Regions from separate parts of the Homo sapiens genome. Here region 1 is linked to region 2. The links come from fine-mapping of genetic effects on plasma protein levels. Region 2 holds a variant in brackets. A gene starts in the other region. All regions are shown on their forward strands.

Evidence for each region. PIP is the posterior inclusion probability: the model's chance that the variant is causal. The UK Biobank Pharma Proteomics Project read protein levels with antibody pairs (Olink). The fine-mapping took linkage between variants from a reference panel, not from the people measured, so its PIPs are less certain.
Region 1: CLEC10A starts here. The variant in region 2 is fine-mapped to the plasma level of the CLEC10A protein (UK Biobank, PIP above 0.99).

Annotation. Positions count from the first base shown.
Region 1 is chr17:7,070,539-7,085,819 of GRCh38, forward strand. It overlaps CLEC10A (C-type lectin domain containing 10A), which reads right to left and starts at 9,713. Exons shown (of 9, transcript NM_001330070.2): 1 at 9,514-9,713; 2 at 8,208-8,347; 3 at 7,459-7,575; 4 at 6,354-6,449; 5 at 6,195-6,266; 6 at 5,447-5,533; 7 at 5,193-5,347; 8 at 4,822-4,928; 9 at 3,999-4,684. The coding sequence starts at 8,274. The coding sequence ends at 4,516.
Region 2 is chr9:79,657,583-79,672,863 of GRCh38, forward strand. The region is part of intron 8 of TLE4 (TLE family member 4, transcriptional corepressor); the gene reads left to right. Among named protein-coding and RNA genes, the nearest start is that of TLE4, 93 kb to the left of the region's middle. RefSeq lists an enhancer at 3,623-6,037. The variant C/T (reference allele first, on the strand shown) is at 7,270.

The DNA of each region.
Region 1 (15,281 bases), not on the chromosome of region 2:
AAGGAAGAAAAGAAGGAAAGAAAGAAAAGAAAAGAAAGGAAAGAAAAGAAAGAAAAGAAAGAAAAGAAAGAAAGAAAGAAAGAAAGAAAGAAAGAAAGAAAGAAAGAAAGAAAGAAAGAAAGAAAGAGTTACTGTCTCTGAGAGAGGCACCATCCTTAGACTAGACCTCCTGGGCTTCACACTTTAGAGGGCCCTCACTGGCCCTCCTGTGACTCCATCCCTTCCTGTGGGACTGGGAATCTCCAGGGCCAAGGTGATGTGCTCACCCCAAGCCATACCTGCCCTTCTAGACCATCCTCTGGGTACCTGGGAGCCCAGATCGTCCACCCAGGCAGCTGTACACCTGTCTTCCCCGGGCCTGTCCCCTGGGTGGCAGACCCTGCTCCTGGTGTGCCCACCCTGAGGCTCAAGTGGTAGCCATGGGCAGAGGTTGGGGGGGTGAATGGAGGGTGTGGACCATGCTGAAGGTGTCCTCACGTGTCCCCCAGGCTCCTCAAGGTGCAAGACTGAGCTGAGGGAAGGGAGCAAAGGGAAGTGAGCTCAAGAGGAACTAGCTCAGGCCTCTGCAAACTTTGAGGGGTGGGCCTGTCTCTGGGGTCTTCTGCTTGTCTTACCTTTTCTTTTTCTTTTTTTTTTTTTTCTTGAGACAGAGTCTCGCTCTGTTGCCAGGCTGGAGTGTAGTGGCGCGATCTCGGCTCACTGCAACCTCCGCCTCCCAGGTTCAAGCAATTATCCTGCCTCAGCCTAATAAGTAGCTGGGACTACAGGCACCCGCCACCATGCCCAGCTAATTTTTGTATTTTTTAGTAGAGACAGGTTTCACCATGTTGGCCAGGATGGTCTTGATCTCTTGACCTCACGATCCGCCTGCCTCAGCCTCCCAAAGTGCTGGGATTACAGGTGTGAGCCACTGCACCCGGCCCAATTTTTTATTTTTAGTTGAGACGGGGTTTCGCCATGTTGGCCAGGCTGGTCTCGAACTCCTGACCTCAGGTGATCCATCCACCTCAGCCTCCCAAAGTGCTGGGATTACAGGCGTGAGCCGCCGCACCTGGCCTGTCATACCTTTTCTAAGATCATGTTCCTTCTCACTCTCTAAGCACTTGAGATCTTCATACTTCATTGACATCCTTGGCCCAAGTGGTCTCTGTGGCTGCAGGAGCTGAGATGGAGGCAGAGAAAGGGCTCCGAGGGGGAGCCTGAAATAAGGGCTGGAGGTGGGTGTGGAGCTGGTTTTGAGGTAGGAAGTGAGGATTCGATAGTGGCTGAGCCAGGCGTGAGAACTAGGAATGTGGCTGGGGGCTGGGTTTGCAGGTGAGGTTGAAACAGCGATCACAATTGGGGTTGTATCTGGGGTTAGGATGGGGTTGACTTACTTGGGGCTAAAAATCAGATTGGGTCTCAGGCTAAGATTGTAGACAGGGCTCCTTTGGAGTTGGGTCTGAGTTTGGGGCTGAGATTGGAAACATGTGGGATGGAGCATGGGGGTGTAGTACAGCTAGGCTGGAGCTGCAGTGGGGACAGAGATTGAATTTAGGGATGAATTTAGAGCCGACATTGGGACTGCAGTTGGGGCTGGAACTGGGATTGTATTGGTTTGGGGCTGTCCAACCCAATCTGGAAGTCAGTGGAGAGATCATTTCAATCTCCTCCAATAACTAGTTCAATCTGTGATCCATCTTCCCAGTTATTTCCACCTATAACACAAAGTCGCCCTCTCCATATTTTCCCTAATGCCCTCCCTGCCTCCGCCGTCCAGTTACCTGTACAAAACTAGAGAATGTAATTGTTTGCTTTCTTAGGTAGCAGAATTACCAGGTCAGGAAATTCTAGAGGGAACTGACTTGTATTGGTTCTCCTGCTCCCCTCTACATTCTGTGGCCCTGGTAGAACTGTGATCTCACGCTCCTGCTGGGTGGCTTCTCTCCCATGATCCAAAATCTTTCAGACCCAGGGGAGAGAGGCACAGAGCTGCTTGGGTGGATGATCTGGGTGGATGTTCTTTACTTTTGTGCCTTCAGGCTTCAGAGTGGTGATGTCTCTGCTATTCTTAGCCACAGGGACTTCACCAACTTTTGTTGGCTTCCTCAACCCTGCTCACACTCTGTAAATGTCATTAAACTCTTTTCAATAAACCCTTTTGTGGCCAAGCACTGCAGCTCATACCTGTAATCCTAGCAGTTTGGGAGGCCAAGGCAGGACAATCGCTTGAGCCCAGGAGTTTGAAACCACCCTGGGCAACATAGTGAGACCCTATCTCTACAAAAAATAAACTTAGCCAGGCATGGGGGCACACATCTATAGTCTCAGCTACTCAGGAGGCTGAGAAGAGAGGATTGCTTGAGTCCAGGAGTTCAAGGCTGCAGTGAGCTATGATCGCACCACTGCATTCTAGCCTGGGTGACAGAACAAGAACCTGTCTCTCTATATATATATGTAGAGAGAGAGAAAGAGAAATAAATCCTTTGGTTTTGACACCTGTATCTTGCTGGAACTGATTAAAAAAAAACCCTTTGAATAAAATTATAAATGTTTACTATGGTACACAGAAAAATAAAAAAGAATAAACTCCATTTGGAAGTCTAACAGGCTCCTCAAACTCAACATGTTCAAAATAAAGCTTCTTATCTCCTCATCCCACCCACAAAACCAGCTTCTCACACGGTCTTCCCATCTTAATTAACTGGGACTCCATCCTTCTAGGTTTTCAAGCCCCAAACCTGGAATTATCCTTGACTTTCTCATTTTCCCAAACCCCTCAGACAACCCATCAGCAAATCCTGACAGCTAATTCAGACATTCCTATATGCCAGGGAGCTTTCTGGGTACAGTAATACAGCAATGAATGGGTCCTGCCATCCCTTAATGAACTTAAAAAGTTGGTTCTTAATAGCTGAAATGCAGCTGGGTGTGGTGGCTCATGCCTGTAATCCCAGCACTTTGGGAGGCCGAGGCGGGCTGATCACCTGAGGTCGGGAGTTGGAGACCAGCCTGACCAACCTGGAGAAACCCCATCTCTACTTAAAACACAAAAGTAGCCAGACATGGTGGCAGGCTCCTGTAATCCCAGCTACTCGGAAGGCTGAGGCAGGAGAATCACTTGAACCTGGGAGGCGGAGGTTGCAGTGAGCTGAGATGACGCCATTGCACTCCAGCCTGGGCAACAAGAAGGAAATTCCCGTCTCAAAAAAAAAAAAAAAAAAAAAAATCAAAATAGCTGAGATGCTTCCCTGGTATATGCTGGATTGATTGAAAAAACAGAAATCTCCACCCCTCTCTATATCCATTCTCTACACAGTATGACTTTGTAGACCCCCCCCCAACCCCCCACCAAAATGTGGAATCTATTTCTCTGGCCCTTGAACCTGGGCAGCCTTGCAATCTGCTTTGGCCAATAGGATGCAGCAAAAACGATGCTTCAGTTCCAAGCAAGGCTCTGAAGTCCTTGCAGTCTTCCAATTTCTCTCTTGGACCCCCACCCAGCCATTCTGTGAACAAGGCCAGGCTAAGCTAATGTGGCCCAGTCATCCCCATTGTCCCAGCCCAGAGCCAGCCAAATATGAGACATGGGAGCAAGGCTACCCTAGACCAGCCAACCCCAAGCCAACCCACCAGCTGACCACGGACGCATAAACAAGCCCAGCCAAGATGACCCAAACCTGGCCAGACCAGACCTATAGCCTCATGAGCTATAATAAATGCTTACTGTATAAGCCCTGAGCTTTGAGGTGGTTTGTTACACACCAATTGCTAACCAATACACCTGGGGATCTTATCTACATCTCCCAACAACTCTGGGATCTTCAGAGAAATTAAACAATGGCTTTTCCTAATCACCCTAAGTTTATACCATCTTTAAGTGACAGAAAAGATTTGAACTCAAATCTATATGAGAAGAAAATGCTATTTTCTCAATCACATAGGACTTTCGAAGGCTTCACCTGGCTTCTCCACTCTGCCATTTTTAGATTGCCAAAAATCAAGCAACACAAAGTACGTAAGTTCTCACGAGAGTATATATTCACTTATATGAAGTATATACACGAGAGTGTATGATTTCACTTATATGAAGTTCTAGAAGCTCTAGAAGAGGCAAGGCCAATAAATAGTGAAAAAGAAGTAGATCACTGGCCTGGAAACAGGGAAGTGGTTGGACTGCCCAGAGGCATGAGGGGACTGGTGGGGGCGATGGCAATGTTATCTATTGCGATCGGAGTGGTAGTCACCTAGGCATGCATATTTGTCAAAGTCATCTCTACTCTTTAAATGAGTGCATTTTTATTATGTAAAAATTATACCTTCATGAAGTTGACTTTCAAAAGTTGGAAAAAAAATAAAAGCTTAAGAACACTATACCATCTTTTTAAAATTAAAGAGAAAAAAATTCAAAATGTTAGCAGTGCTTCCAATCTCCCAGTGCTTATTTCTCTCCCAGAGCGGTCTTGCGAGGAGGTCGTGAGAAGAGTCCTCCTCCCACCGCCATTTCTGTGGCCGGGTGGTCCCACCAAAGGCAGCTCAGTGACTCTCCTGGCTGGTCTGACCCAGGCCAGCCTCGCAGACCCAGTGGTAGGGCCTCTGGCAGACGTCGTCATTCCACCTGCCGTCTGGATGGAAGTGAGCACAGTCCTCGCCTCCACCCAGCCCGTGCCCCTGCCAGTCGTCTGGCTGGCCTGGCTTCCAGTTCCTGAGAGGAAAAGACAACAGCAAGCTAGGAAGGGTAGATGGAGTAGAATTCAGTTCAGGGGAGGAGAGGCTGCCAGTCAGATCCCTGGGGGAAACGCTGACGGAGGACATTGGCACAGAAAGCCAGGGTGCACTCACTGGAAGCCGGTCGCATAGTCTGTTCCATCCACCCACTTCCAGGCTCCTTCAGGGTCACTGAGGCCCATCCAGGTGTATGCGGAGCCTAGATATTTCTGGACAAAATTCTGCGGTGACAGAAGGGCAGTGGTGACTTCTTCCCATCCCAGCCAACTCCTTAAACTAGTGATTCTCAACTTTAGCTCTTCGTTAAATCAACTGAGGAGTTTGGAGATGTTTCTCTGGATGCTCAGGCCTATTAAATCTCTGAGGGTGTGGCACAGATGACAGTCATTCTGGAAGCTCCCAGATGATTCCAATGTGCGGCCAAGCTTAAGAACCATTTCCCTAAATGGGACATGTCTTAGGAACTGAGTACCAGAAGCCCTCACCTGCTCCTCCCTGGAGTTGATGACCACCAGGTGGGCGTTCTTCAGCTGGCAGTACTTCTCAGCCTCGGCCCAGGACATCCCAGAGTGAGAGAACCAGTAGCAGCTGTCTTGGTGCTCCACCCAGTTGACAGGGCAGCAGGTCCCTTCAGTGGAGGCTGATTGGGGAGAAATAGGATAGGGTGGAGAGGCTGAGGCTCTGCCCAGTGGGCCATGGGCAGAAAAGTAGGGCCAGGTACTCCCCATACCTTCCTCACCATTGTTGTTGAGAGTAGCCACCTGGCAGGTCAGTTTCTTCAGGTCTTGCACCAGCTGCTGGACTCGCAGGAGCATTTCAGAATGAACTGGGACACACACAGATGGGCAGTGGGGACAGTGGCCTAGGTGTGCCTTCTGCGTAGTGTGTTCCTGGAGCTCAGATACCCCTGCACAGGGCCAAGCCAGGGAATGTTCCTTCCCGCCCCCACCCACCCCCTACATCATGGCCAGGTACAGCCATCAAATCTGCTTTGGATTCCTCTGCCCCTGTTTCTCCAGCCTGCTCTCCAGAGAAAGCATGCTGCCTTTCTTTCTTTCTTTCTTTTTTTTTTTTTTTTTTTTGAGACGGAGTTTCACTCTTGCTGCCCAGGCTGGAGTGCAATGGCGCGATCTCGGCTCACGGCTACCTCCGCCTCCCGTGTTCAAGCAATTCTCCTGCCTCAGCCTCCCTAGTAGCTGAGATTACAGGCGCCCACCACCACACCCAGCTATTTTTTGTATTTTTTTTAGTAGAGACGGGGTTTCACCATGTCGATCAGGCTGCTCTCGAACTCCTGACCTCGTGATCCACCCGCCTCGGCCTCCCAAACTGCTGGGATTACAGGCGTGAACCACTGCGCCCGGCCTGCATGCTGCCTTTCAAGCTGCTGGCTGAAGGGGAGGGCAGTTCAGCACCAGGAGTCTGTTCCCACCTCCACTGTGTCTGAGCGCCTAGCCCCCCACACCCATACTCGGAGGGTCTCTCACCTGCCTGCCGTTCCTGCTTGAAACCCTCCACCTCAGCTTTCAGAGATGCTATCGTTTCTTCCAAGCTGCTGCCTGGAGGACACGGAGACTTGGCTTAGGGGTCAACTTCCTCCTCCCTGGCCTGGCCCCAGCCCAGAGCCCCATCCAAACCAGACTCACCCTGGGAAGTCAGTGCCTGGATCTCCGCCACAGTGTTTGAGGTGAAGTTGCTAAAATCTGTTCTCAGGGTCACCAGGTCCCTCTGAAATTTGGAATCTAAACAGGTGGATGGGAAGGTCAGTGCTGGGATTCATCAGGTCCTCTGTACCAGCACCGAGCAGGGCCCTCCATAAGCATTGCCTTATTGGGTCCTCACGGCAACCCAGTGGGGCAGGCACTATTATTGTTCAATATTGCCGATGAGGAAACTAAGCCTCAGAGAGGTGAAGTAATTTGAGTACATAACCCAACTACTCAGTGACAAAGCCAGCAGCCATCCTGACTATGGGTCCGTCAACTCTCTCCATCACTACCCCCACCACCGTCCCCATCAATCACTCCATCAGTGCCCCCCCACCATTCCCATCAATCACTCCATCAGTGCCCCCATCACCATTCCCATCAATCACTCCATCAGTGCTCCGACCACTGTTCTCATCAATCACTCCATCAGTGCCCCCCACTATTCCCATCAGTCACCCCATCAGTGCTCCCATCACCATTCCCATCGATCACTGCATCAGTGCCCCCCACCATTCCCAACAATCACTCCATCAGTGACCCCCACCACCATTCCCATCAATCACCCCATCAGTGACCCCCCACCGTTCCTATCAATCACTCCATCAGTGCCCCCCCACCATTCCCATCAATGACTCCATCAGTGACCCCCAACCATTCCCATCAATCACTCCATCAATGCCCCCCACCATTCCCATAAATCACTCCGTCTGTGCCCCCACCACCGTCCCCATCAATCACTCCATCAGTGCCCCCCTACCGTTACCATCAATCACTCCATCAGTGCCCTCTCCTCCATTCCCATCAATCACTCCATCAGTGCCCCATCAGTGCTTCAGTGGCTCTGTTGTGACCCCCATGACTGTTGGTAGCACTGCCCTCACCATGCCCCATTGTTATCTCCACAGCTGCCCCCAACACTGTGCCCTGCATTGCTCCTACTGTGGACCTCACCATCGCCCCACCACTGCCCTACTGTAGCACCCCATTATTTATCTTCTACCCCATTATTTCTCTCTTCCCTGTCCACCCCTGTGACCCTCACTTTGGAATCCAACCACACAGATGATGACCAGCAGCAGGAGGCCGAGGCCCAGGGACAGCAGGAGATGGCAGGGCCCAGAGCAGAGACGCTGCAGGAGGGACTGGAGAGGAAGTGGCCCTGCAAGAGGAGAGAGTGTCAGGATGAGGAGGGTCCAGACACCGGAGACGGGAGAAGGAGAGGGCCCAGGGAGCTGTCTAGTGAGGAGGGCTGGGCACAGGGGACTCCAGGGGAGGGTTGGACAAGGAGGATTTTGGGGTGGGGGATGCCCAGGCCTTTGACTTCAGGGACCAGCACAAGTCCTCAGTCACACAGGCCCCTCACACCCCTGGGGACCCACGTGATAGCGATATGAGGGGTCCCATGGTCAGAGCTGGGGGCAGGGGCAGGAGGACACAGGGAGAGCTGGGGGCAGCCAGCCCTTCATGGGCTTATGCTCACCTACCTGCTGGACAATCAGGTTCACAAATGAGTTTCCTTCCAAACCCAACTACTTATCTTTCCCTCCACCAATGCGCAGCTCTCATCCCCACCCCACAGAGCATCAGAAGCTGGGTCCACTGTGATCCTCCCTGTCCCAGTCTTTCTAGAGACCTTGCATCCTCTTCACACTAGGCCCGTCAGAGGCTGGGGCCTGACCTCCTCAGAGTTAGGACCCACCAGTGCGCGTGGTGGAGGTACAGAAATGATAGGAGAAATCCTTCTAAACATATAAAGAGGGCATTTTAGGAGAGTTTCCCCTTTCCTCTTACCATTTTTAAACCCCTGGACTTTCACCTTATTCTCCAAGTACTGGAAGTTTTCATACGTCCTTGTCATGCTTGGGCCAACACGGCTCTGAGGTTGTCACAGCTGAAATGGAGGCAGGGCCGGCGCCCAGTCTGGGGTGGAGCTGGGGAATAGGAGGTTGGGACTAAGTTGGAGCCAAGGGCAGGGCTGACGTTGAGTTGGGAGATGAGGCTCAGGTTGAGAATGAGCCCAGGGTTAAGACGGAAATGAGCCTGGGTTTGCAGTCGAGTTAGAATTGGGGTCGAGTTGAGTTTGGGAGTGAAACTGGAGGGTAACGTTGGAGCTAAACGCATTGCTAGGACTACCCAGTGGGCCAGTTAATCAGGCAGGACTGGAGGTTGTATCTCATGCTAGGATTGGGGTCAGTATGCACGTTGGAGCCATGGATGGAATTGGGGTTAACTTTGGTGGTGAATTTGGAAACAGAATAGAGTCGAGGTTCAATTTTGGCTTTGGGCTGGTGTTAAAATTCAAGTTGATTCTGGGGTTGGGGTTGAAGTAGGAGCTGGGTGGGGGGCGACAGGTGCGGTGGCTCACGCCTATAAATCCCAGCACTTTGGGAGACCGAAGCAGACAGATCACTTTAGGTCAGGAGTTTGAGACCGGCCTGGCCAACATGGTGAAACCCCATCTCTACTAAAAATACAAAAATTAGCTGGGTGTGGTGGTGTGCGCCTGTAATCCCAGCTACTTGGGAGGCTGAGGCAGGAGAATCACTTGAACCCAGGAGGCAGAGGTGGCAGTGAGCCGAGGTTGTGCCGTTGCACTCCAGCCTGGACGACACAGTGAGACTCAGTCTCAAAAAAAAAGAAAATGTAGAAGCTGGGGTTAGTATTGGGATTAGGGCATGGCTGGGCTGAGATGAAGATAAGGCTGGAAATGGGCCACCAATGAGGCTGAGTCTGAGTCTTAGTTTATTTTTATTTTTATTTATTTATTTTTTGAGATGGAATTTCGTTCTTGTCGCCCAGGCTGTTGTGCAACGAGGCCGTCTCGGCTCACTGCAACCTCTGCCTCCTGGGTTCACAAGATTCTCCTGCCTCAGCTCCCGGAGTCTTAGTTTATGACAGGGGATTGTGGCTGCCGTAACCCAATCTAGAATCCAGTGAAGGGAACAGAGTCTCAAATCTCCACGTAGTAATTAAACCCCACACTGCCGCCTTATATTTATTTTCATTTAGTCCCACCCAAGACCCAAAGTCCCCCTCTCCCTGCTTCCTCTGACATCCCCTGTCCCCTGGGTCTCACCGGCACCGGCAGCACCATTACCTGTGGGAGGTCTGGAGGGTGTGATTCCCACGTTGGTTGTGCTGCAAGGACCAGAGGTGGGACGTCACTCAGAGTTGGGAGCGCTGTGTCCTGGAGAGCTGGGGTAGAGGTGACTGGAGTCCTGCTGGTCTTGGGTCTGAAATCCCAGGAGCCCTATCATCTGGGACATCCCATCTCCTCAACTTTAGACAGTAAATGAGAATGAACAGGGATTAGAACACACAGAGACCATGTGTGGGTGGGGAGAGTTGGGTTTGAGGCCAGCTCTGTTCTCCTCCTCCAGGCCATGCCTACTTCCTTTCCTCTTCTCGGAGCTTCCTCATTTTTACCATCTGGGAGCAGGGCTGGATCAGAGGTACAATCTGCTGTTGCTCCTCTACCCTACACTTCCTTTCACTTCCTGCCTCTACATTTCCCAGAATTGTTGGGTCTCCATCATCGCACCTCTGATCCTAGAGAAGCCCAGTCTGTTCTCTTGCTCAATCCTGGCCTGAGTCCCTGGCATCAGCATCCTCTGGGTCCCAGTCATTCGGCTGCTCAGCTGTGGCCTCGCTCGCCTCACTCCACTCGGAAGGAGGGAAGGGGGTGCCAGAGAATAGAACTTCTTGGCCCTAATAGGACGGGAGAAGCCAAGGAAAAGAGCAAATTTTATTGAGTAATCTGTGATAGGATTATGCCAGACATTTACCTTCCACAACCATTCCCCCCAAGCACCTGGGGAGGCATTTTGGATGACGGACTAAAGGCTCAGAGCCCAAGATCACTCACAGCTTGTAAGGAGACAGTTTGGCACCCTGCTCTGGCTCTCAGCACAGGCGCTGTCTTCATGAACAGGATTCCATTTCATCCCATGATCCCTGCTCAACCCCTAAGGGAGCTGCCCTGAATCCACGCGCACATCCCTTTCAGTAGGAAGGAAACTGAGTATCTTACAAGGTGGAGAAGGAGAAGAAATACATTTTAGGTTATATTTTGTATGTACATGGGGTTGTGTTCTGCTATGTGCTTTTTTTTTTTTTTTTTGGAGTTAACAAGCTATCAGGAACATTTCTCCACATCAGTTTATAAAATGTACTTGATCTACCTGCACCTCATTTCATCATAGGCACCGTAATTTATTTATTTAGCATTTCTCTATTGACAGAAATAAATCAGAAATTTAAGTTGTTTCTTTTTCTTTTCTTTTTTATTTTATTTATTTATTTATTTTTTTGAGACAGAGTCTCACTCTGTTGCCCAGGCTGGAGTGCAGTGACACAATCTCGGCTACTGCATCTCCTGGGTTTAAGCGATTCTCCTGCCTCAGCCTCCCGAGTAGCCGAGATTACAGGTCCCGCCACCACACCCAGCTAATTCTTGTATTTTTAGTAGAGAGGGGTTTCACCATATTGGCCAGGCTGGTCTTGACCTCCTGACCTCACATGATCTGCCCGCCTCAGCCTCCCAAAGTGCAGGGATTACAGGCGCGAGCCACCGCACCCGGCCAGGTCGTTGCCAGTTTTGTTTTTATTTGGTATTCGGTATTTTGATTAGTATATGTCGCAGGTTCGGTTTTTGGAAGCCAAGGTTGAGGCTGAATTTGGGGTACAAGCTATTTATTAGGGATTAGCACTTCGAAAAGGAAAGTGGATGAAATGGTGCTGGGCAGAGGGAGAAGCCCAGCACTTTGGAGAGCTTCAACCAAACCAACAGGGAGCTCTGGGTTCAAACAATGCCACCCCCGGGAGCTGTCCAGCATTGGACTGCCACAGGGTCCTGTAGAGCACCAGCTCCTTCGGTCACTGGCAGTCAGCCCTGACATGGGTGTGACCTCAGGAAGCAGCTGTCTGCAGGTTACACTCCCCACAGTGGGTCACCACATCCTTCCTAGAAGGGGGACCTGGGTAGCTCTCTGTGTGTCTACCACAGTCTTGCAGTGTATTCACATATTAATTTGGAGATAATCAACATTTTGACATTGTTGAATCTTCCATGAAAAGAACATGATATTTCTCCATTCACTAACTTTTTTTTTTCAGTCTGGTTCAGTGGGTTTGAAGCTTCTTTTTTTTTTTTTAGTTCTGGGATACATGTGCAGAATGTGCAGGTTTGTTACGTAGGTATACGTGTGCCATGGTGGTTTGCTGCACCTATCAACCCATCACCTAGGTTTTAAGGCCCGCATACATTAGGTATTTGTCCTAATGCTCTCCCTCCCCTTGCCGCCCACCCCCTGACAGACCCTGGTGTGTGATGTTCCCCTCCCTGTATCCATGTGTTCTCATTGTTCAGCTCCCGGTTATGAGTGAGAACATGCGGTGTTTGGTGTTCTGTTCCTGTGTTACTTTGCTGAGAATGATGGTTTCCAGCTTCATCTATGTCCCTGCAAAGGACATGAACTCATTCTTTTTTATGGCTGCATAGTATTCCATGGTGTATATGTGCCACAATTTCCTTATCCAGTCTATCATTGATGGGCATTTGGGTTGGTTCCAAGTCTTTCCTATTGTAAATAGTTCTGCAATAAACATACGTCCAATCACTCTTATACACATTTATTCATCCATTTGAGTACTTATTGAGTCTACGGCATGCCAAGCACTTTCCTTCCCAAGAGGCAGAGTTCAGGAGTTCAAAAGTAAACAGACAAAAAAGTCCTGCCTTCATAGAGCTTACCTTCTAGTGGGTCACCAATAAACAAAATAAATGAGTAAAATATACATAAGCCACATGGCAATAGTGCTTTGCGGAAAAAGAGCAGGGATATGAGATAGGGTTGATTTTTAATGTCCCTCAAGAATAGGGCATGTATTAGTCCATTCTCACATTGCTCTAAATAAATACCTGAGACTCGGTAATTTATCAAGGAAAGGGGTTTAATTGCTTCGTAGTTCTGCAGGCTGTGCAGGAAGCATGGTGCCGGCCTCTGCTCAGTTTCTGGGGAGGCCTCAGGAAACTTATGATCATGGTGGAAGATGAAGGGGGAGCAGGTGCCTCACATGGTAAGAACAGGAGCAAGAGAAAAGACAGGGGATCAGATTTTAAATGACCAGATCTCACGGCTGTGCGCAGTGGCTCACGCCTGTAATCCCAGCACTTTGGATGGCCAAGGCGGGCGGATCATGAGGTCAGGAGATCGAGACCATCCTGGCTAACACAGTGAAACCCTGTCTCTACTAAAAATACAAAAAATTAGCCAGGCGGGGTAGCGGGCACCTGTAGTCCCAGCTACTGGGGAGGCTGAGGCAGGAGAATGGCATGAACCCAGAAGGCGGAGCTTGCAGTGAGCCGAGATCGCGCCACTGCACTCCAGCCTGGGCAACAGAGCAAGACTCCATCAAAAAAAAAAAAAAAAAAAAAAAGACCAGATCTCACGAGAACTCCCTCACTATCATGAGAACAGCACCAAGGAGATGGTGCTAACCATTCATGAGAAATCCATCCCATAATCCAATCACCTCCTACCAGGCCCCACCTCCAACATCGGGGATTACAATTCAAGATGAGATTTGGGCGGGGACACAGATCCAAACCATACCAGAGTGTCAAGAAAGGCCTCACTGGGAAGGTGATATCTGAGCAAAGTTTGAAGGAGGTAAGGAAGCAAGTCACAAGGGGCTCTGGCAGGAAGAGTGATGCAGGGAGCGGGCAGAGCAAGTGCAAAGGCCCTGAGGTGGGAGAACGTCTGGTGTGTATGAGGATCATCCATTTGACAGACTTGCCAGAGATTTTATAGAGAAGTGAGTCAGGGAGGAGAAGAGTAGATGAGCGATGGGGGAAAATGTGAGCCTTGTTGGCTGTTATTAAGGACTTGTTTTTACTCTGAGTCAGAGATGCAGACTTTGAAGGGGTTGGAGCAGAGGAATGACATAACCTGACATATGTTAACTGTAACGGTGTGGCTTTTGTGTTGTGAATTTGATGAAACAAGCTGGAAACAGAGAGTCTAGGTAAGAAGCTGCTGTCATATCCAGGTGAGAAATGAGGTGGTCAGAAGTGTTGTGATTCTGGATATATTGTGAAGGTAGAGCAGACAGAATTTCGCTGATAAATTGCTTGCGGGTTTCATGAAAAAAATAGTTCTTCTAGTCCCCAAAATAAACTAAACATTGAGCATTTTCTATAAATTGCTGACTCCCTAGAAAAACAACTCTAACCCTGATGTTTGCAATGCTGACGCCTGGGTAGGTCATGACCTTTCGTGCATATGAAAATCATGTGAGAAAAGCGCTGGGTTTTGCCATCATGAGTAGACTGATAAAAACGTGCTCACAATGGTAATCTTGGAGAATTTCCCTTTCAATACTTGTTGTGGTTTTAGTTTGGCAAGCCTGTCCTTCTAAAGCCTGATTTATTTGCCAGGTCTTGGCAAGCAATCTTCTTTTCTTTCCTAAATGCTTCTGTCCCTGAGACCCCTTTCACTGTTGACAATGATCGTTTCCCTCTTCCGCCACATTTTCCGCAAATTCTTACCCTCTCCTAGAACCGCTACTGGTCAGGACTTTTTTTTTTTTTTTTTAAGCTAGGAACAAGAGAAAGCACGCTCGTGCCACCAGTTCTCCATGAGATTCTTCCAGACCATACAGAAAGACAAGTGATTGGAACATATGAAGGTTGAAAGGGAAAGAGAACTGTCATTATTGGTAAATGACATGATTGTCTACTTTAAAAATCCAAGAGAAACAGCCCCTCCTGGGCTCAAGTGATCCTCCCGCCTCAGCCTCCTGAATAGCTAGGACTACAGGCATGCACCACCACACTAGTTAAACATTTTACTGTGTAGAGAACAGATCTCACTATTGTTCCCCAGCCTAGTCTCAAACTCCTGGCCTCAAGCAATCCTCCCACCTCAGCCTCCCAAGGTGCTGGGATTACAGGTGTGAGCCATCATGCCCAGCCTGTGTTCTCTTCGATAATTTTTATAGTTTCAGCTTTGATGTGTGTCTATGATCATTATGAATTAGATTTTTTCATATATATACAGTTGTTCCAGCACCATTTATTGAAAATACTTTTCTCCATTTAATTATTTCTACCTATATAGTTGATAGAATTCATCAGAGACGTCATCTGAAACTGGATATTTTCTTTGTTGAAAGATTTTAAATTGTGAATTTATTTGAATTCAGGAAAGTCTGTTCAGATTTCCTATTGCGTTTTTAGTTTTGGTAATGTGTATCTTTCAAGTAATTTTTCCATTTTATTCTATTTATGGGCAAATTTATTGGCAAAAAGTTGTTCATATTATCCTTTTGATGTATGTAGGAGCTGTATTTATATTTTCTTTCTTTTTTTTTTTTTTGAGATGGAGTCTCACTTGTCGCCCAGGCTGGAATGCAGTGGCGCCATCTCGGCTCACTGCAAGCTCTGCCTCCCGGGTTCACGCCATTCTCCTGCCTCAGCCTCCCGAGTAGCTGGGACTATAGGCGCCCGCCGCCACGCCTGGCTAATTTTTTTTTTTTGTATTTTTAGTAGAGACAGGGTTTCACCATGTTAGCCAGGATGGTCTCGATCTCCTGACCTTGTGATCTGCCCGCTTCGGCCCCCCAAAGTGCTGGGATTACAGGCGTGAGCCACTGCGCCCGGCCTTATATTTTCTTTCATTCTTAACACTGGCAATTTGGGGGTTTGTTTGTTTGTTTTTGAGACAGAGTCTCACTCTGTTGCCCAGGCTGGAGTGCAGTGGCATGATCTCGGTTCATGCAGCCTCTGCCTACCAGATTCAAGAGATTCTTGCGCCTCAGCCTTCCAAGTAGCTGGGATTACAGGCGTGCGCCACCATGCCCAGC
Region 2 (15,281 bases):
AGACTGAACCAGTGCTATTAGGTTCCTCATAGCACTCTCCAGTTCTTTTCTGAGTGACTGAAATGAGGGTAATGATTCAGAGCTGTGAAGGCCAAAATTGCCTGAAACTTGGTAAGAATCTGAGGTTCAGAAATCGTCTTATTTCCCACTCCGTCCCAAATGTGTGCATAATTCCAATATCAGGTAGCAAAAAATAGGCACCAAAATCAAGACCAGCTTAAATATAAGTCGCAAAATTCACTATCACCAAATGCTCATTAGCTCCGTGGCCTCAACCAAGTTGCTATTATTGTGCATTCTTTATTACTTTGTAAGTCCTTTTCATGTATCTGCCTGGTTCTCCTGTGTTTTATCCTGAGTGCAATAGCCTTCTCAAGTCACATCTATGAGGGATTTGCCTTTTTTATCTGTAAAATATAGCACGAGTACTTTTTCTCCTCTGTGCCTATGCTTACCCAGTACAAACATTTTTTCCATCTGAGTGGTGGTGTTTTTATTTTTGTTATTTCATTGGAATGTCTTCAAGCCCAGAGTGCTGGATGCATCATCAAAGAGTATGATCATTTTTAGTGACTTGTGCAGTGCCAAATTGATCTCCTAAAACCCTGTACTAATTTAAAATGCCAAATGCAATGTTTGAATATGTTTCCACACAATCCGCCAATATGGAACTTTATAGTTTTTGTAATTTTTGTTGGCATAATGAGTATGGATGGTGCACTTTATTTTTTTAATTTACGTATAATTATTTTTTAGCTAAATGCTTTTCTCTGGGTATATACACTGTTTTTTTCCTGTGCAAATTCCTTGATTTTGTTTAAAGGTTTTTATAATGATTCATTCATTATTTGTGTTTAAGGCAATGCATTTTTATTCTGCCGCATCTGTATTTTGGGGCATAGATGACTAAAACATCATACATTGCTTTTTTCTATCCCCCATTTATTATGTTGACAATAAAGGTTTATCAGCGGAAAATTAGAATAAGGTTGTTTTTATGTTCAAATTGAAGGGCATGATTCAGGCCAAGAAAGCACTTTTGCCTCATTAATTGGGTGTTAACCGGTGAATGTGGGTTTTTAGTCTGAATTAACAGAATGATTACTTCATACACCCCTTTAAGTAGGAGTTTTACCGTTTGGGAGATAACTTGCTGGGATAAATTTGTATTACTCCAGACTTTAGAAGTACATATTGTAAAAAGGCAAAGGCATAAAATAATAGAAAGGTAGATTAAAAAGGGGAAATCATTGAAATCCACAGAACACTAAAGAGTGTTTAAGCAAACAAAACAGTCATGGACTTTTGGTATCTTCTGTTTTCCCCTCAGTAATCAGCAATCTGAGAAGAGAAGTTGTCTAATTAAGGGCTGTAACACTTCAGCATATCCACTGTAACCTAGGGAAAAATAAGGTGGGTCCACAGTGTCCACTCAGTCCTACTGATCTCCTCTGAGCAGCCCCCACTGCATGTATAGCTCATAGGTTAGATTTTGCTGGTGAAGGTAGGTGTTATGCTTACCCTTATTTCATACATGAGGAAAGGTTTAGAAGTGTGAAGACCTGTCAAAGGTCACACAGCCAGCGCCGCCCTCAAAGGAAAGCTCTTTGGGTAACCCAGTTTCATTCTCAGTTATTAAAAATCTGAAACATACTACAAAGTACAAAGAACGCCTCATACACCCAGCAACTAGGTACAAGAGCTATCAATATGTAGCCATATTTCTATCTATACTTTTTCTTTGCCGAAGTATTTGTATGCTCATTTTGCTCCTGTGTACTTCAATATGCAAAATGAACACATTATCTAAATAGTGGGCCCTTTTTTTTTTAGATAACCATAATGCCTTTAATCACTTAGTAAAATAATTCTTTGATATCTTCTAATACCCAGCTTATAATCAAACTTCTTTGATTATTTCAAATAATTGGTTTACTTGAAATGAGATTCGAATAGGATTCATTTTATTTTGTTGTGATCTCTGTTAGGTCTCTATAAATCTTTCTTATTAAAAAAATTTTTGTTTTTTGCCACTCCCTAACTCATAATTTCCTTCTCAAACTAATCTTCGATTTGTCCTCTTATACAATTCCACAAAGCAGATTAAGACTCTTCCCCTCAAGAAGCTAAAAATTTAGGGGAAGAGAACTTTACTTAGTTAGGGCATGGGGAATCAGGGATACCACCTAATAAGGAAATAGAAGTACTTAATATATTTTTAAAATCATATTTTAAAATATGTTTTTAAAAGCCTATCTTGAGCAATACTTATTTGGACAGTGGATTTGTATTTCAAATACATCATAGCCTGTGTTTCAAGGTTAAAGAATAGAAATAGAACTCTACCTTTTTACGGTCAGCATACATTTCTAGATATCTTACTCCCTTGATTATTGGTAAAATCCATTTCATTGTTCATCACCAATGTATACAGACAAACCTAGATTTCATTCTGTCCCATTCTCCCATCATAAGGAAAAGGCTTTTCCTGGTGTAATTCACCATGAAGTATTCTTGACACCACAAGGAAGCACACTGAAACATTTAGAATATGAGCCATTCTGTAGGAAGGCTATGCCAGGTTCTGCAACAATCCTCTCTACCACTGGGTAAGCTGAATATCAATAGACAAGTCACTTAACCTCCATGGATCTCAAGGCTGTAACTCAAGGCATTCTTCCAAGTATTTGGAATGTAGCTATTTTCTTATGTGTTATTTAGTCCTGTCCTAGAAACAAATTTTGAAATAAAAATCTTATACCATAGGTTATGTTTCAGCAATAAAGTTGGCCATACCATTAGCCAAGTAAACACAGTGGTTAGAAGTGAGGAAATCATTTGAGGGGTTCGGTGGTAGGGTGATAAAGTATGCCTTTCAAGCATTTAACGTTATAACTCTTTCAATTTCCCAAAATAACAAAATAAGATGGTAATTTGAAATTAAGTGTTTTAGCATTGCTATTGCTTTTTAATTATTTGTTTACAAGACTTTTAGGTATTTATTTCTACCATGTATTTTACTATTTACAGTTATCAAGGAACAGTTAAGAAGTTTTGTTCTATGAATCTATGATGCAGTAATTTGTTCAGTATTAATTGATACCTGCCTCTAGGCATGTAAACTGTGTGAAACGTAACAGGTGTCCTAATTCTAGAAAAATGTGTGGTAATTGTTTGTTTGTCAAACAGATGAATAAATATCTTTAGGGCATAGCTGGTCCTCAGGTGGTGAGCATAAATGGATTAATGATGTGAGTGACTCGGGGAGACACGCTTGTTTTGCAGCACCCTCCTCCGCCGATCGCTGAAGCAGAACAAATACTAATTAACAGGGGCGGCCTGGTTGGCAGGTTGGCTTTCTCCAGCTGATTTGGCAAAATGGTTTATTCCTTTCCCTCCATAAACCATCCCTCTTAGTTATTAGACATTTTCATACTGATGTTTAGTTAATTTCTAATTTTCTTAATTAGGATGCATTTCATCTCTTGCAAAAATATTATAACGTTTATAGTTAACATTTTTAAAAATTTAGAGGGGCCTAAGATTTAAGTTTTAATAGTTGACGCTTGAATTTCAAAAACATTTGTTTCTCAAAATGTAGATAATTCTTCCAATGGAATTATTCCAAAGAATCGTTCACCATCTTTTTTTTGTATTCTTACAGTAACACTAACCCCACTCTGGAAAAATTATAAAATCACTCATGGGGTAGTTTAATACTCTTGTTCTTCTTTCTTGAATTATTTCTGCAACACTTTCCTCTGTCCAACTTATGTATTTTGTTCTGTGGTGATTTGAAGTAGCTCAGCTATCTTCTGGGTTAAAAGACTTTCTACGCGTAGGACCCACCACTTTAATAAGGGCTGTAATTTTGGACTTAGAGAGTCATATCTGATTACTGCCATGGCAACTGCCTTGTGAAAGGGTTGAAGAGAATTCAGGCTTCATGAGAGAGTAATAGAAAGGAAGTTTGCTGAGGAGCTGAGTAGTACTTTCTGAAAGAGTTTTTGATGCTTTTAAATAAGGTTGCTGTTAAATGAAGATAATACAGTTATTTCAAAACTCAGTAATGCTGCTTAGACTTGGCAAATCAAAACTTGAAATGTTAGCATTGAATACTTAGTTGTTTTTCTTTGAATCTAAATATTGAATAAAATAAGTCACATTGCTTTAACTTTATCAGATTATTCATTATTTAGAACCAATCCAATTATTTTTGTATGTAATAAATTTTACTGCTTAAAAACAGTGTAAGCTGAGAGTTCTAGTATTGTAATGTAACATAAGAAATTCCCGCTCATTTGTGATAGTTGGAATTGGTGGTTAAGTACCCTCCTCCTCCCAACCCCTGGGTTCAGTTTTGCCTCTAGTTTTCCTTCACTAGAAACTGGAGAACAACACACACATACATGTAATCCGCTCACGTGCGGTCCACCTTTCTTCCTTCACACTGTTTAATATTCCATCCCCTCTGCATCCACTAAATGTTCGTGAAAAGCTTACACTTTCCCTCCCCTTTTACAGAAATGCAGGCAGTGAGGTGGAAGTTAAAATGTCTTAAGTATTCTTGTTGTAAGTGAACTTTCTAAGATATGGTGATAAGGGTGAGCATGAGGAATTCTTTTTCATGGAAATGGACTCATTATTTAATTGTATCATATCCTGAAGGATTCTTGAATCTTCTTTTTTAAATTGCTACTTTTCAAGTTGCTGACTTCAAATTTGAGAATAGAAGAGGGCTGGGAGAGGGGAGGTAAATAAGTTAGTGATGCCACCCAGTGAGAGAAGCCAGTAGGCTTATATAATAAGATCTCCTTGTTATTTATTGCTCCTTATGGTCATTTTAATTATTCTAGAGAATTTTGAGAATTCTATTCACTTATCTTTTTTTAAACTTCTGTTTTTGTGAGCGACATTTGGCCTTTTGAACAACAAAATAAAATTGGAAATGCTAATGTTTTGAGCCAACTAAAGGAGGAAAATAAAAATGTCACCATGGTAACAAAGCTGCTTTCTAGATGGTTTCCTAAGATATGCCTGAACTAGAAGCAGATGTCTGATTTGAGAATCTTGCCTCCTTCGATGTAAACAAATAACTTCTGGGCAGGTGTTGGAAATAATATGGAAATCCTATTAAGGGGCCCCGGGTTCCTGTCAGTCAGGAAACCCGTGCCACAAAAGGGCTGGTTGTCGCATAAAGGAGCAGAGTAAATTCTCATTAGGCTTGAGCTTTTCCCAGGAAATGATTGTCTCCGTGTGTTCTTTCTCCTGTGAATCTGAATGTAAGCTGTTGCTTCTATTGATCTATTCACTGGCTTTATTTTTCTCCTCTTCATTCCAGATCCTCCCTCGCCCCCACAAGCCTGTGTTCTCCCCCTCACCCACCCCTTCCCTTTAGATTAACACTTGATCTGTGCTACTGCTCTGAGAGTCGTGACATTTGTGATTTTAACCTCCCAACCTGGGTGGGGGTGGGGGTGGGGGTGGGGGTGGAGAAGGAGGGGAAAGTTAGTCTTGTTCCCTCAGCCTTTTTCACAAAGACTCTGGCTGATTGGGACTCGCACAGCTAGCGGCAACGGCAATCATGAAGACCATTCTGTGTACATTTACTTGAAGTTATATTTTTATGAATTAAGCAGAAACTAAAAGCTTGAAGAGACAGCTTTTTAGGAACTTTTAAAAACATAGATAGTTGTCTGGTAAGCCTCTGAGGCTGCCCTGTCCAATATGGTGTAGCCACTAGTCACATGAAGCTATTTAAAGTTAAAATGAAATAGAATTTTCAAACCCATTTTCCCAGTTATATTAGCCACATATCGAGTCCTTAGTAGCCACACGTGGCTGTAGAAACTGCCAAAACGGCAGAGATACAGAACCTTCCCACTGCTGCAGAGAGTTCTATTGGATGATGCTGCGTCTCTGACAGACTCTGATGAGGCTTGCTGGTTCTGACATTCCTTCTGGCTAAAACTGACTCCTGATACTCAAAAGCAAGGTTCCCCTGGTTTCATAGAAAACAAGGCATGTGTGTATTCGGGTTTGGGTGGTTGATGTGGTTAGCTGCACTAATATAGTAGTGATCTTTAAATGGTTGTAGATTTTTTTTTTTTGGTCACGGAACTGGTTGAGCAATATAAACATGGGTCTTCCCAAAATGGACCCCTAAGAGATGCAATTTAATGTTTCTAGATAGAAAGTTGTGGCAGTTTTGGGGGGAAGGGAGGAGTGCTTGAAAGCTATGCATAAGGGTGCTCTTTATAATACTCAGAAGGTTAAATGTGGATAAACACAAAACAAGGCTTCAGAAAAGCCACACTATTATTATGCAGCGTTTCTCGGACTATAGTCCCCGAGACGCACTTCATAAAGCCAATAAAGCGCGCACTGGTGGTCTCCCGTTGCCCTAGCAACGGGCCACGGGGCACAGTGTATGTGAAATGCATGAACATCTGTGAATTAATCTTTTTTAGTTTGTTCTTTTCTTGGCACTGATTGGACCACTCGGGCTTGTGCCTGTGACACTGCGTGCAGAGGGGTAATCTGGAGCAGTCCCCAGGGCCTTGCCCTAAAGTGGATAGTGGAATGGAAAGTGAAGGGAGATTTATCCCGGCAGTGCATTCAGCAGTGCAGGGATTTAGCCTGACAGCACTCTCAGCGGGATGTTATTAGCTTACTTTCTGGTGCATGGGGAAATGAATAAAAATTTTTCTAGTAAATCTGGGCATTATTGGGTTTATTGGGTTGCCCTGAAAAAATAATCTGCAGAGAAAATTGAAATAATCACTTGTGTTTGTACCACAGTTATCAGGACTTGAAAGCTGAGTTATTCCACATCCTTGGCCCAGCCCCCGCCTCAGGGATTATAACCAAACCATATTGGACTGTCACTGCTCTGAATGAGACTCCTGAATTGGATGCGTAGGCTGGAATCTGATTTGATGATAAAATCTGTTAGTAACCTAGTCTGACCTTATTTAGGGAAATTTTAAACTAAGCTGGTGACATTTTTGCCTTTGGGAGAATAGAGCAAATAATGACTAAATACGTAAGCGTCCAGGAACAGTACTTTTGTTAGTTAGTCCCCCACCCCTGACCTCTTCTGTTCTTTCCCTCCTCCTGCCTCCCGCTGCCACTTCTTCCCTCCCTCTTTTCAAATTGCCATCCTCCTTCTAGACTTCAGCATGACTGTACAGACTGTGTTCAGTTCCTCCTGTCAATACCAGATGTTCACTTGTAAACTGTTTTGCTCACCCTTGTCATTTTCAATTC[C/T]CTTCTCTTTTCTTCCTTTTTTCTCTTTGTGCCTCCCTTTTTTTTTCTCTCTCCATTCTTCCTTATGGGTCAACCCTCTTTCCTGGGGAGAAATGAAAGAAGAATATTACATATGAAATGTTTCACGATGGATGTAGTCTATTTGGTTAATTGTTAGGGTGAAAATTTCCTTTATAACAAATGTATTAAAACAGAAGTTCGATTGCATTAGTACTGAAAGGTATTTAGGTGGGAAGAACTCCTTGTCAATTCTGTATATGTTTTCCTTTGATTATTAAAAAGGCACAGCTATACCTCTGTATGTAGCTGAGAGATTTTTCTGATTTGTTTTTTGTTAGACAACTGACTAAAAATTATATTAATGGTTCCTGACTTTGAAACCTGTTGGTATTGACAGATGAACTTGCAGTCCAAATAAAATATTTAAATCAGTAGGTATTGATTCAGCAGCTGGAGGGCAAACAGGCCTGTACTGCATTGGGGGTGCACAGTAAAGATTAGATACAATCCCTTCCTTCAAATCATGTTCCTGTTAAAATATGGAATTGCGATATGCTGCCTTCTGAGTAGAATAAAATATATTAATGGATCGTTCCTCTTCATTTCTCAGAGCTTCTGGTGAGTCCTGAATTCTTTAAAATGTGCATATAAAACCAGTTTATGATGATGGGAGGACTAGCTCTGAAGGCAGTCTTCCCAGGAAGCTGCCCGGGCTGATGTGCAAATGCATGCAAACATGAACCTTTAGCAAACACTGACAGTAATGCCAGTGGCAACGTTCTGTCGACTCCCAATCGGGATATGGGCCTTTTACTCGAATTCAGAAAGTGTTTTGTAGGAATCGGCAAAACAATTGAACTACAGAGCTAAAATATTTATCATCTGATTTTTTGGCACTTGAATACCCTCACTTGCTTTTCAGGTGGTTTCTCTGTTTTCAAAATTAGTAAATAATTTTATTTGTTTTTTTGCTGCTCCCATTTAGCTCTGATGATATTTTCTTCTTTCAAGAGTATTTTTAAAAATTGCCAGCTTTCTAGTTGTTACTTGAAGCCAGCTTCAGAAGTAGAACAGTTAACACGGATTATTAGAGACCTTTAGAAGGAAGTAAAATTCTCAAATTTTATTTCTATGTCTTGGACTGTTATTTGGTTTTTGAAAGCACAATTTTTTATGCCAAGAACTAAAAATCTGTAGACACTGGTGGTAAAAAGTAGAAATTCCACAATTACAAGTGGCAGTGAGTAAACTGGCTAGAGTGAGAAGCAGGAATGAGGTGGAATGAGTATGAATCTCTGCTGTTTCCTTCATCTGTGTGTGTGTGTGTGTGTGTGTGTGTGTGTGTGGGTGGGGTTTTTTTTTTTTGTTTTTTTTTTTTTTTTTTTTTTGAGAAGGAGTCTCCCTATGTCACCCAAGCTGCTGCTGGAGTGCAGTGTCATGATCTCGGCTCACTGCAATCTCTGTCTCCTGGGTTCAAACGATTCTCCTGCCTCAGCCTCCCAAGTAACTGGGATTATAGGCACGTGCCACCACACACCTGGATAATTTTTTGTTTTTGGTATTTTTTAGTAAAGATGTGGTTTCACCATGTTGGCCAGGCTGGTTTCGAACTTCTGACCTCAGGCGATCCACCCACCTCAGCCTCCCAAAGTGTTGGGATTACAGGCGTGAGCCATCACGCCCCACCCCTTCATCTATTTTTAACAGTTTCTTAAAATCTCTGTCATGTTCCTATGTACTAGGCTGGTAAATAGCCATAATTCTTGAATTTTATTTTTAACTTTTCTACTCTTACTGTGTTTTAAAAGCAGTAATAGAAATAAAATCAGCACTTTAATTAGTGTTGTAGATATGTGTATCTATAAAAGTGAAAATGTTTAGGGGAAAAAAATGCTGCTTGTTTTCTTAGACACACAACATTACATGGAAACATTTGGTGATTGCAGTGGCTTCAGCATTTTAAGACTGGGCTACCAAAAACTGTACCTGATACTTAACCTGTTGGGCCTACCCAGGGACAGTGAAAGAGTCCAAATGGAGGCCCTCATACCATACACTGAAGTATTTAAAAGTTATAAATCCAATAAATAAATACACCTTAGTGATAACCTGAAAGACCAGGTTGGAATTTAAAATTCTCAGGCACTTTGGAGTTCATTGCTTTAACCACGTGGGTCCTCACGTATTTTCTTGTACACACCCTAGTTCTTACTTCAAAGCTTCATCGAACCCCTACAGCTGCGCCCAGATCTAGACACACTCAAACCAGCAGCTTGATCTAACCCTGGGAGGCTTCAGGAAGAGGACTGAGACTGAGTAAACCCTGGAAGTGGGCCTGGGGTGTTAGGGCAGGGAATTTCAGGGTCCTGGGTACCCAGCTCATGGTGTAGAGGCCACGGACAAAGGCTGTGTGTGGGCATGCCCCCTTGGTCTTACAGGGTGTTGCTCAGCCAACTGAGGGCCAGGGCCCACGTCAGGGGCCCTTCTCCTTCTCGCCAGGCTGCTTGGTTTGTACATGATTTCATAAGCTATACACTTAAGAGGAAAGAAAGGGAACTTAGAACTGTTTTATCTTAAAATAATTCTTTGTTAAATAAATGTCAATAGTTTTAATCAAAATTCATCCAGGGAATTCTAAAATATAACATACATATACACATATATATATGTATATAAAACATTAAAGATAATCTCTAGGAACAGCTGCTTTGACACTGTGTTTTATAGTCTGTTTACGGATGTGTATGTTTTTAAAATACTCCATTAAAAATCCGAAATGCGTATCCTGCCTATTGGAAGTGCTTGTGAAAGGAAGGTGGGGAGTTGGGGTACCATTTAAAGCTGAGCAAGGTAAAGATAGTGTGGAGCTTCGAAGTCAGGATTTTCTACACGACCCCACCCTCAATCTGGTCCACATAGTAAAGATTGGATGCTAGTGAAAATGCCAGGCAAGGGTTAGGCCTAAAAGGATTAGTCATGAAGATTCGAGATTCTTAAACTAAAGATTATCACTGGGAACTAACTCGGGTCATGATTTCTCTTTTCATCTGCCTTTGTTCCTTTTATGCACTTCCACAGTTGGACAGCTGGAAGTGCCACAGAAATATTTGAAGAGCCCTATTTAGTAGTTTACGTGAAAAGTCGTTGAATAATTCACATAACAAATGATTAGACAAGCACTTGTCCATCTGACTGAATTATTCTACATGTTTGCCCAAGCAACAAAGGAGAACAGCGTTTCCTCCTACAGAGGGTATACAGTGGTGGTATTGACCCATCTAGTTACTGGGTGGGTTTCAGTCTTTTGTTGACATTGTTGTTAATGAAAGCAGCCCAGACGAGCTGTGAGCAGCTGGGCTGGATAATTGTGAAGGATTCATGCTTGTTGCTGTTACCCCCAGTGTTTGCAGTGGGTTGTTTGCTTTGACTTTTGTTGAACTGTTGACAAAAGCATTAGATACAAATGGGAACAAATAAAGTGGTGAGATGCCAGGAGGGCTTGGCAGGAGTAGTGGTTTTCTTTCTGACTGAAGTGGAGGATGTCGGAACGTATCTAGATGGGAAGTGGAAGGTGTATTCGGTGTGTGTGTTTAGCAGTTTACCCTTCCGATACCAAACTGGAAAATTTTGTTGCTTATGTACCTTGGCTCACAGAGGTGAGAGAATCAAGGAGGTCACCGTATCTTGTAACCCTCAAAAAGCCACGCTCTTTACCATGCCAGTCAGGTGGCTTGCAGGCCAAGAATGTTACAACAGAAATAGTTTCCAGATTCCCCCTCCTCAACTTAAAACAAAATTTTAATAATAGAAGTATTTTGGACTGGGGAGATGACAGGCATGACGTTGAGGTGGGGAGGATTAAGAAGAACAGTATATGCTAAAATAGTATAGCTAGCAAATGGAAGTCATCTACTGGAACGCTTTTAATTTGCTTTAAACAAAATACTCTTTTGTATATTCAAATGGAGAGTAGCTCAGCTGTTGTGAAGCCAGAAAATTAATGGTATTTTTAGTGAAATAGCAAAAGCATGTCAACAATGTAGCTGCAGATGATAATGCTGGCATTTTATTCATGAGGAATTATCAATGCAGGTTACTGGACAACATAGTGTGACTGAAAATGATTGAGTGTCGGAGAAGCCCGCCATCCTTCTGCTCGATTATTTCATTTTGCATTTAGGCTTCCCCAGGCTTCATTTGTGCATGTATTTTCCCTATCACAAACCAAAATATAAAGTCTCCCTGGCTTAGGATTGTATGCATATTTTTTCTTCCTTTAAAATGTCTCCAAATGAAAGTTCCCCTTGAGTATTGACTCAGAAGCTGAGGAGTTCATTTTCAGTGCACACATGGTCAGTGGAGGTGGTTAGGCTTCAGAGATAGGTCCCTCTGAACAGTTTATCTAAATAGGTCTATGGCAGTTGTTTAAAAGCCAGCAAAACTCACCACCGTTTGATAGATGGAAATTGTCACAGAATATGCCTTCTCTGACAAGTAGAAGATTTGGAATAAGTAGTGAGGCCAGAAAAATGTTTAAAAAACATGGGCAAGAATAGGCAGAAACTGTATTTAGGCAATTAAAATGTCTTTTGGAAGAGTGCGTTTCAGTGATAGTTGAAGAGTTACTAAAAATATATTTGAATAGTCAGGAAAATTAAGCTATGTCTTTTTTTTTGGCCTGCAGTTTTGGTCTGAGGCGCTCTGGGCACCATCACTCACATTGTTTTGTTGGTATTATTTCACCTAGTGTCTGAGCAAGGAAGAGGCTAAGGCTTCCTTTCAACATTCTGTTCTCCAACCTCATTTATTGGATTCCCCTCTGCTACTGGTGACAAAAAGAATGGATTATACCTTTGTGTAATTGTGCTTGTTCCAGTACTTCATGTGACCAAATCTAGGAAAGAATAGGAATTTACTGAGTTTGTTAAAAGTGGGAATGGCCCAATTGTTTTAGTCTTTGCAGCATCTTAATCCTAGAGAGCAGTGACCAGTGAGAAGAGGTCAGGATTTTCTCAGAAATGGGGGCATGCGTTACATGGCTGTGCTCCACTCAAAAAAGTTACATGAATGCTCCCCACGTTTCAGCTCTCAGAAGATATTTTGCTTGTTTCAGTACTAGATGGTCAAATGGTAAAGGCCTAGATCTGAAGTTCATGAGGAAGAAACCCCTGAAATGACAGACACTGAATGGGGATAAATGCATCTATGTGATTAAGTAGTTGGTAGTTCTTCCAGGGTTTATTACTCAAGAGAGGAGGTAGGGAAATCGTGCAAGTAGAAAACTTGAAAAGACTCACCTTAGAGGGGATAGCTAAAGAGTAAAATGAGTAACAGTTAAATAAGAAAAAAAAAAGAAAGAAAAAAAAACTTGAGAAGACAATAAGGCAAGAAGTTTATCACCATTAACAAGCCAGAAGAAAGAAAGAGACTACACCGACTTGACTCAGCATGACTCCAAAATTATGAGACCCTGGGCAAAAGCACAACAAAAGGCTCACAAATGAAAAGAATGAGTTCAAGAGAAATTTACTTAGGCCACGTCAAAAAGATTGGTACACTGCACCCTCAGGCAGTGACCAGAGATGCAAGGGTAAGCATATTTTTGTAAAAGACCTGTTTTACAGACAGATATGCCTCAGTCTTTCCTCCCCCTCCTTTCCCACTGCTCAAGCAGGTATTCATGTTTGCTGTGCTTTTAAAGCTAAAATATCACCCTTGTTAACGGTGACTCAAGGTGACTCTACATACTCTGTTCAAACTGCATTTCTTAAGGTTGGGAAGCTGGTGTGTGTTGGGACCTGTCTACTTCTGTGCATGTGGCATGCTATGAACTCTAGACAGCCAGTAGGCAGGAAACAGTGTAGCAATACCAGCTAGACACTCATCCTCTGGAACCAGGTGGTCTGGGTTCAAATCATGCCTTATGCTATTTACCATCCTTGTGATTTTTGGCAGTCTTCTTCTCTATCTGTGTAACATGGGAGTGGTAAAGTTGCCCAATATAGTAGGTCCTTATTGGTTTTTTTTTTGTTTGTTTTTTTAGTGTACAGTATGAGTAATTTGAAAATGACCTGGTTGTGTTTATTCTTTGGAGGGTTAATATTTAAATTAACTTGCATTCCACAAACAAACACAAAACTAACAGCAGAAAGGAGCAAACTAGAAGTGTGCCAGGCCACAGGGAAATTATTGAGATTAAATTTTGCCTAAAAAAAAATCTACAAAATGGATCTTGTACATGCAGATGGTTGAGAATTAACTTTAGCTGATCCTAGCACATATTTAATTCCATTGGGGATTTTGTGTTTAGGGATAGTTCAACCTTGGCTGAGAATGTGACTTTTATGTATTTTACAGCAAAACTACTTGCTGCTCATAATGGATGAAATTGGAGACCAAAGAGGAAGAACCTTCTGGGTTCCTGTCAGTCTAAATCCTGATTTTAAAAGACATTCACCTGCCATGCTAGTGTTGTGTGCTTCTACTGGTAGGAAAAGCTAATAACTACCCTGACGAGCTCAACGAGTGGCCCGAGGACTGTGATCTCACAGTTTACCGTTTTTGCAGAGAGCCTCTTTTATTTTCGTGTCAGATTATCTGTAAAATGGACTTCTCCCTCCAGTGTTGTAAACCATAACAATTCTGGCATTCCTCTAATTGTGTGGGGAGAGGGAGTATACCCAACAGATGCTTGTCGAGCAGGAGAGACTCTTGCTGCTTTTCATTATTTTACTACTCATACACCTAATCCCTGTCAATAAGGTTGGCTGTTTGGGGAAAGAACACACATCCCTGCACTATAATACTGATTTATTTGCAGCTTCTTTTCTTCAGACCGAGTTAACTGAGGAGTCTCACAAGGCAGTGAGTCAGCCTTGCTATGGACTTTGACAGAAGTATATCTGAAGGGAAGGGAGTGATTGCAGTATTCAGGGTGCTGGGGAACAGCAGACCTGGTTCAGCAAGGGGAGGTTAAGGACTATACTCCCACCCCTACTCAAGACATGAATGCCTCTCATAGTGTGATCCCTGGTTGCTTTGTTTTCAGTGAAGATTAGCCTCAGTTTCTCCGTTAAAAAAAAAAAAAAGTCAGTCTGGAAGATTTTATACGGCCTATGCTTTTTAGGCCATTGAAACAAAACACTTTTTTTTTTTTTTTTTTTTTTTTTTTTTGCAGAGGTGGTGGTGGGGGAGGGGGGATGCCCTTTCAGTGATTAGTGCCCTGCTACATAGTTGTCTTCCAGAGCTACAATGTCAAGGAGCCCTCCTGTCCTGGGGAGAGAGGGTGCGCAGAATGGAAATTCAGCTTGCTCAAAGAGTCATACCAACAGGGCTCTAGCAGATTTCATATTTTCTTAATAAGAATGACAAAGGGGCCAGAGTCCTGGAAAGTAAGATACACACTGGGCATAAGATGGTGTTTGCCCTCATGGGAAGAGTGTGGTTTTCCCACAGGAGAATCCAGAATAACCAACCAACATGGCCAAGTTTCCCACTGTGGGCGGGCAGTGAGGGGCCCCTGAGCAGACAGGATTTCAACTTCCCACATGAGCCAGGGTGGGTCTGGCAAAGGTTTAGGAGATGTCTTTCAAGTGAATCTGTTTTTCTACATGTTTTCTACCTCTGGATGTATAGAGTCAGCTTCCTGCATGACCTGTTTTTGTGAGACAGAGGACCTGGGAAACATGAGGCCATATTTGAGGCGGTTCATTCTTACCAACCGCCAGACCTTTGTTTTTAGAGAAGTGGAATCTTCACCAAAGGCCCAAGAAGCCTTTGTGGGGTCAGCTGTGCTTGAGAATTCTTGAATCTTTGTTACTCTTTATCACCTACCTGAGATGCCACTTTTGCTTGCTTAGCTCAGGTTTGGAATTTGATTTAAGAGGGATTCACATTTCTCTGTTTATCAGAACTTAGCATCAATTGTGTTTCTTTGTAGAGATGTATGTTACTTAAAAGATAAGGGAAAGGAGCATGTGTTTCTGTAGCTCAGAAAACCCTAAGAGGAAGGA